2 separate regions of the Homo sapiens genome follow, and region 2 is linked to region 1. The links come from fine-mapping of genetic effects on gene expression. A gene starts in region 1. The other region holds a variant in brackets. All regions are shown on one strand. Distances are from middle to middle.

Region 1 (5,381 bases):
ATAGTTTAAAAAGTAAAAAACAAAATAAAACATTTTAGAAATAGAAAAAAGCTTATAGAATAAAGATAGAAATAAAGAAAATAGGTCGGATGCAGTGGCTCATGCCTATAATCCCCACACTTTGGGAGGCCAGGAGTTTGACAGCAGCCTGGCCAACATGGCGAAACCCTGTCTCTACTAAAAATACAAAAATTAGCCAGGTGTTATGGTGTACACCTGTAATGCCAGCTACTCAGGAGGCTGAGGCACGAGAATTGCTTGAACCTGGGAGGCAGAGGTTGCAGTCAGCTGAGATAGCACCACTGCACTCTAGCCTGGGCAACAAAGCGAGACTGTCTCAAAAAAAAAAAAAGAAAAGAAAAGAAAGGAGGGAGGGAGGGAGGAAGGAAGGAAAAGAAAGAAAGAAAAAATATTTTTGTATGGCTGTACAATGTGCTTGTGTTTTAAGCTAAGTGTTATTACAAAGTCAAAAAGTTGAAAAAAAAAGGTTTGTACAGTAAAAAAGTTACAATAAGCTAATTTATTACTGAAGAAAGAAAAACGTGTTTATAAGTTTAGTATGGTCTAACTGTACAGTGTTTATAAAATCTATAGTAGCGTAATGTTCTAGGTGTTCACATTTACTCACCACTCACTGACTTATCCAGAGCAACTTTCAGTCCTGCAAGCTCCATTCATGGTAAGTGCCTTATACAGGTGTATCATTTTTACTCATTTACTGTACCTTTTCAATGTTTAGATACACCAATACTTACCATTGTGTTACAATTGCCTGTAATATTCAGTACAGTAACATGCTGAATAGGTTTGTAGCCTAGGAGCAATAGGCTATGCCAAATATCCTCAGTATGTAGTAGGCTATACTAGCTAGGTTTGTGTAAGTATAATCTATGATGTTCACACAACAAAATTGCCTGACACATTTCTCAAAACATATTCCCATTGTCAAACAACACATGACTGTACTGCACACCTTCCTGGAAGTAGAAAAATTTTTGACTAAAGTTTCATTTGGATTCCAGAAGAAATATGCTATAGTTTTGGATATACATTTTTTTTCCTGTCTGTTCACCCAAAGTGAGCCTCACTCATACAAAAACTGGGTGGTTCTGCCCTGGTGGAATATAGACCAAATGCCCATATGGGTGTAATATGTGACCGATACGGCCCATTCCTAGGTAATCAACATTATTTTCTCTTCCACCATTCCTTAACGTGCATCCTAAAGCCTCCACTACTGTCAAGCTAAATTTGATCCCCACCTTCTGCAAATTATGGCTCCCATATTTTTAGTGACTCCAGCACAATATTCCTTAACTGTAACGTTTCCTTTTCTTCAGTACAAAATATACCCCTCCTACCCCTTTCTCCAGATTTCCACTTCATATTGATCTTTTCCTCCACTGAAACCAGTGGCACTTAACTATTGCCTTAAATTGTAAACTATCTCTAAGGAAGCATATTTGTCTTCCCTACTAGTTCTAAACTCCTGGGAGCACAGATTTGATCTTGTACTTCCCTGTATTTCCATATTTCCACAAGGCTTAGGGATATAACCATGTACATTTTAGAAAATAGATAAATATTGCTGGGCGCAGTGGCTCACGCCTGCAATCCCAGCACTTTGGGAGGTCGAGGCTGGTGGATCACCGGAGGTCGGGAGTTCGAGACCAGCCTGACAAATATGGAGAAACCCCATCTCTACTAAAAATACAAAATTAGCCGGGTGTGGTGGCGCAAGCCTGTAATCCACCTACTCAGGAGGCTGAGGCAGGAGAATTGCTTGAACCCAGGAGGCGGAGGTTGTGGTGAGCCGATATTGAACCATTGCACTCCAGCCTGGGCAACAAGAGCGAAACTCCATCTCAAAAAAAAAAAAAAAAAAGAAAATAGATAAATATTTGTAGTTCTATGATTACTAAATATATCTACACTGACCTATATATACCTGTATAAAGATATATACCTGTACTATACTATATACCTATATTGTCCAGTATCATGTTGCCCACTGTCAAGAAACAAAATTTCATCAAATTTAGTTTAAAGTTCTTGGCCAGGCATGGTGGCTCACGCCTGTAATCCCAGCACTTTGGGAGGCCGAGGTGGGCAGATCACCTGAGGTCAGGAGTTTGAGACCAACCTGGCCAACACGGTGAAACCCTGTCTTTACTAAAAATACAAAAATTACCCGGGCATGGTGACACACTCCTGTAATCCCAGCTACTCGGGAGACTGAGACAGAAGAATTGCTTGAACCCGGGAGGCAGACGTCATAGTGAGCCAAGATTGTGCCACTGCACTCCAGGCTGGGCAACAGAGTTAGACTGTCCTCTGTCTCAAAAAAAAAAAAAAATCGAATTGGCTTTTATTAGTGATTCATGAATCAGGCAGCATCTCATCTATAAAACAGAAAAGTGTTCTAATGAGCTGAGCAGAAGGGGTTGGGCTTATAGGCAGAAAAGGGCTGAAGAAAGCAGAAATAAGGAACAAAAAGCAGATTGGTCATTTTGAAGTTACTTTCCTCAAAGAGTTACATCAGAGGGGACTTCTTTATCATGCCAGCTCAGGTATATGGGCCCCTTCTCCTATTTGTTGGAAAACTGACCCCTTTTAAAGCTGAGTTTAATTACGCAGCACCTAGGACAAGTTGCCTCCATTCTGGTTTTGTCTGCTCTCTTGAGGCCTAGTGCCAGAGTTCTGTCCAAAACAACGACCTCCCATAAACTTTATTTAACACCATTGATCTTTTTTCCTACGTCTAAGTCACCCCAACTGTTATAAATTCCTATTACAAAGGGATCCCTGCTATGCTAATTGCAACCTTTGGGGTCTAACCGTGCTGTACACACACACACACACACACACACACACACACACACATGCTCAACAAATTTATGCTATTTGATAAGAGGCAATTTGACGTCAAGAGAAGAACTGTTTGGCCTAGGCTCTATGCCAAGTCTTGGTTGTGCCACTAACCGTGAAACATACCCTCTCTGACCTTCAGTTTTCTGGCTGCAGACCTATTTTCCCAGGGGTGCCAGGGAGGGAGGATAGGCAACTGGTCCATTCGTTTATCCTCCCCACCTTCCCGGCGCAGCCTTCTCAGGGAAACTCCGCCTCAAGGCTGGGGACTGGAGGAAGGGTGGTGGGGCCACGGTGGCCATCTTTGTGCGGGGCGACCCGCCGCCCACGTGCTGCGGCTCCCGGGCCATCTTTGTGCGGGGCCGCGCTTCCGCCAGCGCCGCAGCGGGGAATCTGCAGTAGGTCTGCCGGCGATGGAGTGGTGGGCTAGCTCGCCGCTTCGGCTCTGGCTGCTGTTGTTCCTCCTGCCCTCAGCGCAGGGCCGCCAGAAGGAGTCAGGTGGGCTCCGGGCAGTGCCGAGCCTGCCCCTTGGGCTCGGGGTCTGGCCGGAGTCCCGAGGCGCTCCCCCGCGCGGCCGGCTCCCGGGAAGATGCCGTGGCCGCTGTAGCTCGGAGCTGGGCAGAAGGCACCGGGGCGCCTTGCGGCGGAGAGTGAGGTGCCGGGGTCTCTGCTCCTGCTCTGGACCCTGGAGAGTAACCCATTCCCCGGAATTCAGAATGACAGGGAGGAGAGGGAATTCCCCGTTCACCCGCAGGAGGCGTGGCCCGTGCTTGGCTACTCTGGACCTGCCTGAAACACTGAGGGGTCGGGGATGGGGGCAAATGTCGTGCGCGCGAGCGTGTGTGTATATGCGTTGCCAGAAGAGAAGAGGGGTTTAATGTCTGTAGCTTTTAACTGATCCTCTTTGTGGAGTTCAATTTGATTAGTAGAAAGTGAGAGTCCGCGTCACTATCCATAGCATTCTGAGGGTTGAGCATTAAGCTTGGGAATTTTCCAGTTTCTTGGACACCTGACAGCCGGATAGAGGAACAGACTTGACGTGAGCGTGGGAGTTGCACACACAAAAATTCCTCCCTAGCGTTTCGTTTCCATCAGTGGGATGGGAAGGGGATTTCTGAAAGTTTTGGTCTTCTGTTTCTTCTGTTGGTGTGGTGTCAGCAAATAACATTCAGGAAAATTTTTTTAACTCTCATTTACTTCACTTTTTAAAGGTTCAAAATGGAAAGTATTTATTGACCAAATTAACAGGTCTTTGGAGAATTACGAACCATGTTCAAGTCAAAACTGCAGCTGCTACCATGGGTGAGTTCTTTTCTTTGATGTGTCTTTGAGAGTTTAGTTGCTGTCACAGGAAGTATTCTAACATCCTTGAGAGATTTTGGTTGCAGTGGTCAGAAAGGCAAGGATGTTTTTCTATTTCTGGGGAATAAAAATGCTCTCGCATGGGAAAGGCTCAGGTGGTGTCAACCTAACCACTGACTCACTGCGGGATTCAGTGCATGTGCATCTGTTTTTCCCACTGGGCTGCAAGCTTCCTGAGGTCAGGGTCTGTGTCTTATTTGCTGTTGTCTCCCTGGTGCTAGCTGTCAGTGCGTGCTCGATAAATATTGTTGAGGAAATAAACCCATCTATCGCTGAATCTAGTCCTAAATTTCCTGATGGTTATCTTTAGAAAATGCACATCAGGCTGGGCATGGTGGTTCATGCCTGTAATCCCAGCACTTTGAGAGGCCAAGGCAGGTGGATCACCTGAGGTCAGAATTTCGAGACCAGCCTGGCCAACATGGTGAAACCCTGTCTCTACTAAAAATACAAAAATTAGCTGGGCATGATGGCACGTGCCTGTAATCCCAGCTACTCGGGAGGCTGAGGCAGGAGAATCGCTTGAACCCGGGAAGCAGAGGTTGCATTGAATCCAGATCATGCCACTGCACCCCAGCCTGGGTGACAGAGTGAGACTCCGTCTCAAAAAAGAGAGAGAATGCACATCAGGGCCGGGATGAGGTATGGTAGAAAGATAACTCTGAAAACAGACTTGGGTGTTGGTGCCGGTACTCCCACTGGTTACCCCTGTGCCGAGCCACTTCAACTCCTCTGGGTCTCAGATTCTTCATCAGCTAAATAACAGGGTCTTTTAAGCTCCTTTTTATGTTATTTTTGACTCCTCAAAAAATTCCTTGGATGCTTATGATACTTATTGAAAACTTACTATGCACTCACTTTAAAAGGAATACAAAATAGTGTAATTTTGGTTACTGCTGTCACGCTACCAGAGTAAGGGCTTGTGGGGGAGAGTGTGGACCAGACAGACCAGAACAAGAGAGTCAGTGCTAGACTGTAAGGCGTAAACTTCACCTCCTGTGGGATTGGGAGGAGATGCCAGGAGGACTGAAGTGACTAGAAGGACACAGGTGTGGCATGAGTAGCGAAAGAGAAATACAGAACTGCCAAGGGAGGGGCAATCCAGATGGAAGGAGGAAGAAGAGACATTGACCCGCTTTTTACTTTTTATT
Region 2 (5,381 bases), 25 kb before region 1:
AGGCAGAAAAGGGCCTCTTTCTTAGTTTAACCTATGAATAAACAGGAAATTAAACATGTTGCTATTGTCATAATCTAGTATTTTAAATTTCTCGCACTTTTGATTTTTAAATTGAAGTTTAGATAAAAGGTGGATTATACAACTTCTTAAAAGTAACGAAGGCAAATACAGGCATACCTCATTTTATTGCATTTCACTTCATTGTGCTTCCCAGATACTGTATTTATTACAAACTGAAGGTTTGTGGCAACCCTGCATCAAGCGTATCTGGGGGTGCCATTTTCCAAAGTGCTCACTTTGTGTCTCTGCCATATTTTGGTAATTCTCCCAATATTTCAAACTTTTTCATTACTATTACATCTGTTATGCGAAATGTGATCTTTGATATTACTACTGTAATTGTTTTGGGGCACTACAAACTGCACCATATGAGACAGCAAACTTAATGGATAAATGTTTGTTCTCATTGTTCCATCAATGAGCCATTCCCCCATCTCTCTCCCTCACGTCAGACCTCCCTATTCCCTAAAACACAAGAATATTGAAATAAGGCCAACTAATAACCCTAAATGGCCTCCGAGTGTTCAAGTGAAAGGACATCACACATCTCTCACTTTAAATCAAAAAGTGGATATTAAGCTTAGTGAGAAAACATGTCAAAAGCCCAGACAAGCTGAAAGCTGGGCCTCTTGTATTAGCTAGCCGAATTGTAAATGCAAAGAAAAAGTTATTCAAGGAAATTAAAAGTGCTACTCCAGTGAACATACAAATGGTAACAAAGAAAACAGCCTCACTGCTGATATGGAGAAAGTTTTGCTGATATGGTCTGGATCGACCAGCCACGACATTGCCCTAAACCAAAGCCTAATCCAGAGCAAAGCCCTAACTCTTTTTAAGTCTATGAACCTCCAGAGAGGTGAGAAAGCTACAGAAGAAACGTATGAAGGTTAACAGCGGTTAGTTCGTGAGGTTTAAGGAAAGAAGCTGTCCCATAACATAAAAGCACAATGTGAAACAGCAAGTGTGAATCTACAAACTGTAGCAAGTTATCCAGAAGACCTAGCTAAGATCACTGATGAAGGTGACTAAACTAACAGACTTTTCAAGGGTGACAAAACAGCCTTATACTGTATTGGAAGAAGATGCCATCTAGACTTCCATACCTAGAGAGGAGAAGTCAATGCCTGGCTTCAAAGCTTCAAAGGATAAGCTGACTCTCTTGTTAGTGGCTAACGCAGCTGGTAACTTTAAGTGGAAGCCAATGCTTATTTACCATTCCAAAAATCCTACCATCCTTAAGAATTATGCAAAATCTACTCTGCCAATGCTCTAGAAATAGAACAACATATTTGGATGACAGTACATCTGTTTACAGCATGGTTTACTGAATAAGCTCACTGTTGAACCTACGGTTTAGAAAAAAGATTCCTTTAAAAATATTATGTACGGCTGGGTGCGGTGGCTCACGCCTGTAATCCCAGCACTTTGGGAGGCTGAGGCAGGCGGAGCACCTGAGGTCAGGAGTTCGACACCAGCATGGCCAACATAGCGAAACCCCGACTCTACTAAAAATCCAAAGAAATTAGCCAGGCATGGTGGCATGCACCTGTAGTCCCAGCTACTTGGGAGGCTGAGGCAGGACAATCACTTGAACCTGGGAGGCAGAGGTTGCAGTGAGCTGAGATCACACCACTGCATTCCAGCCTGGGCAACAGAGAAAGACTCCATCTCAAAAAAAAAAAAAAAAAGTACTTACTGCTCATTGACAGTGTACCTAGTCACCAAAGGCTCTGATGGAGATTGTTGTTTTTATGCCTGTTAAGATAGCATCCATTCTGCAGCCATGAATCAAGAAGTAATTCTGATTTTCAAATCTTATTATTTAAGAAATACGTTTTGTAAGGCTATTTCTGCATTAAATAGAGATTCCTCCAATGGATCTGGGCAAAGTAAACTGAAAACCATCTGGAAACAATTCACCATGCTAAATGCCATTGAGAACATTTGTGATTTATGAGAGGAGGTCAAAATATCAACACGAGCAAATGTGGAGGAAGTTGATTCCTACCCTCATGGATGACTTTGAGAGGTTCAAGACTTCACTGGAGAAAGTAACCGCAAATGTGGAAGAAAAAGCAACAGAACTAGAATTAGAAGTGGAGCCTGGACTAGGTGCAGTGGCTCATGCCTCTAATCCCAGCACTTTGGGAAGCCAAGGAGGCTGGATCACTTGAGCCTAGGAGTTCGACACCAGCCTAGGCAACATAGCAAAACCCCACCTCTACAAAAAAACAAAATACAAAAATTAGCCGGGTGTGGTGGCACACACCTGTAGTCCCAGCTACTTGAGAGGCTGAGGTGGGAGGATCACTTGAGCCCAGGAGACAGATGTTGCAGTGAGCCATGATTATACCACTGCACTCCAACCTGGGCGACAGTGAGACCCTGTCTCAAAAAAAAAAAAAAAAAAAAAAAAGTGAAGCCTGAAGATGTGGCTGCACTCTCTCACAATCAAACTTAAACGGATAAGGAGCTGCTTCTTATGGATAAGAAAGTTGTTTCTTGACATAAAATCTATTTCTGGTAAAGATGCTGAGAACACTGTTGAAATGACAAAGAGTTTAGAATATTATATAAACTTAGTTGTTACAGCAGCAATAGGGTTTGAGAGAAATGACTTCAATGTTGAAAGAAGTTCCACTGTGGGTAAAATATTATCTATCAAACACATCACATGCTACAGAGATATGTTTCATGAAAGGAAGTGTCAACTGATGTGGCCAACTTCACTGTTGTCTTATTTTAAGAAAGTGACAAAGCCATCCCAACCTTCAGCAACCACCACCCTGATCAGTCAGCAGCCATCAACATTGAGGCAAGACTCTCCACCAGCAAGATTACAACTCACTGAAGGCTCAAATGCTCATCTGCATACTTTAGCAATCAAGTATTTTTTAATTAAGATATGTACTTTTAAAAGACATAATGCTATTATGTACTTAATAGAATACAGATAGTATAAGGCTGGGCATGGTGGCTCCCCTCTGTAACCCCAGCACTTTGGGAGGCCAAGGCAAGAGGATCACTTGAGCCCAGGAGTTCAAGACCAGCCTGGGCAACAAAACGAGACCCGATCTCTACAAAAAAATTTAAAAATTAGCCAGGCATGGTGGCACACGGCTACAGTCCCAGTCCCCTAGGATTGCTTGAGCAATCCTAGGAGGGCAAGGCTGCAGTGAGCTGTGATTGCACCACTGCACTCCAGCCTGGGCAACACAGCAAGACCTTGTCTCA[A/AAAAAT]AAAATAAAATAAAATAAAATAAAATAAAATAGACTACAGTATAGTGTACACATAACTTTCATATGCACTAGGAAATCAAAAAATTGACATGACTCGTTTATTGTGATATTCGCTTTATTGCAGCAGTCTGGAACAGAACTTACAACATCTCTGAGGTATGCCTGTATGTTTAAAACTAAAATGTATTTAAATTACATAATTATTTCATTGTTTTAAGGGGTGTGGAGAGCCTCTAAGAGTAAGTTTCTTTATATACTTAAATTGAAACAGAAAAGTTTGCTAGCCATCCTGATAATAGTAATCCTCTTAAACTTGGCCAAAATATTCTTCAATATACCCATAATTAGCCGTTCAAATCAGACACGGTTAATCTTCTGATTCAACCAGTAAGGAGAATGACTAAAAATTTATTTTCAACTCAAATGGCTGAAATATTAATCTATAAATATAGAAACAATTCATGTAAAATATATTCCTCATATGAAATCAGAGTCATGAAAAATGTTCGTAACAGATAATTCATTTTGTAGAAAACAAGGGTAATATTAATGAATTCAGTTGATGAGTGACTTAAATAACTGTTTAAACAATGTAATCAGACCTACTATAGTATAACCAATAGAAAGACTGTTCCTGTCATCCTTATTAGCACAATCTCTAATTATGACTTGATTTTATACTTTGTAATTACCCACATAAATTCACGCTAACACTTCAGCACCATAAATAATATAAAGCAGTAATTCTCAAACTTGAGCATGCATCAGAATCACCTTGAGGGCTTGTTAAAACACAACTTGCTAGGTCCTACTTTCCAGTTTCTATTTCAGTAGGTTTGGGGTAGATTCTGAGAATTTCCAACAAATTTATAGGTGATGCTGATGCTGCTGTTCTAGAAACTACATTTTGAGAACTACTGATACAGTAATGATTAAGACAAAGACTCTGGAATCAAAAAAACCTTACTCCTCAGCCTGGGCAACATGGTAAAATCCTGTCTCTACAAAACAAAACAAAACAAAAATTAGCGGGGCATGGTGGTGTGCACATGTAGTCCCAACTACTTGGGAGGCTGAGGTGGGAGAATTGCTTGAGCCTGAGAGGTCAAGGCTGCAGTGAGCTGAGATCGCTCTACTGCACTCCCGCCTGGATGACAGAGCAAAACCCTGTCTCAAAAAAAAAAAGCAACCGTCTCTGGACAGTGGTGGGGTTTGATGGGAAAGTGGCATGACAGAATCTTGTGGAGTATGTGTAACGCTCTGAAGTCTTGACAGGGGATTAAGTCACACAGGTATGTCCACATTTAACAAAACTCCATATACACAAGATTTGGGAATTTTATTTTATTTTATTTTATTTATTTATTTATTTGAGACAGAGTCTTGCTCGTCGCCCAGTCTGGAGTGCCATGGCGCGATCCTGGCTCTGGCTCATTGCAACCTCCATCTCCTGGGTTCGAGTGATTCTTCTGCCTCAGCCTCCCGAGTAACTGGGATTACAGACACGTGCCACCACGCCCTGCTAATTTTTTTATTTTTAGTAGAGACGGGGTTTCGCCATGTTGGCGAGGCTGGTCTCGAACTACTAACCTCAGGTGATCTGCCCACCTCGGCCTCCCAAAGTGCTAGGATTACAGGCTTGAGCCACCGCGCCCGGCGGGAATTTTATTTATATGAATTTAACCTCAAAAGAAAAAAAAGCTGTCAACAAATATCGAGCTCTAGTTAATGATACACACATGCTGAAGTATTGAGGAGGAAGCAAACTGAGGTCTGAAATTTAACTTTGAAATGCATCAAAAGTAAGATGGACTAATGGATAGAGGGATGGAGAGATGGACAGATAAGTATTACACAGTTATAGTAAAACATTAATAGGCAGAATCATCTGGGTAAGGATTACACTGGTGATAGCTGTAAAATTCTTTCAACCTTGTTGAATGTTTAAAAGGTTTTGTAATAAAATGTTAGTTACAATCATAATAATATATATACATGTCTACAGCACTTGAATATGGCATAGAGTAGACCCTCTTACCTGCAGGAAGACATTCCAACACCCCAGTGGATGCCTAAAACCATGGATA

The links. PIP is the estimated chance that this variant, and not a neighbour inherited with it, causes the effect.
Region 2: its variant is the best candidate, but not a certain one, in a credible set for the expression of POGLUT1 in monocytes after interferon gamma (Fairfax 2014, PIP 0.62).

What each region holds. Positions count from the first base shown.
Region 1 is chr3:119,465,741-119,471,121 of GRCh38, forward strand. It overlaps POGLUT1 (protein O-glucosyltransferase 1), which reads left to right and starts at 3,223. Exons shown (of 11, transcript NM_152305.3): 1 at 3,223-3,366; 2 at 4,080-4,170. The coding sequence starts at 3,282. RefSeq lists enhancers at 2,887-3,387, 3,080-3,249 and a silencer at 3,300-3,499.
Region 2 is chr3:119,440,612-119,445,992 of GRCh38, forward strand. The region is part of intron 5 of TMEM39A (transmembrane protein 39A); the gene reads right to left. Among named protein-coding and RNA genes, the nearest start is that of TMEM39A, 20 kb to the right of the region's middle. The variant A/AAAAAT (reference allele first, on the strand shown) is at 3,295.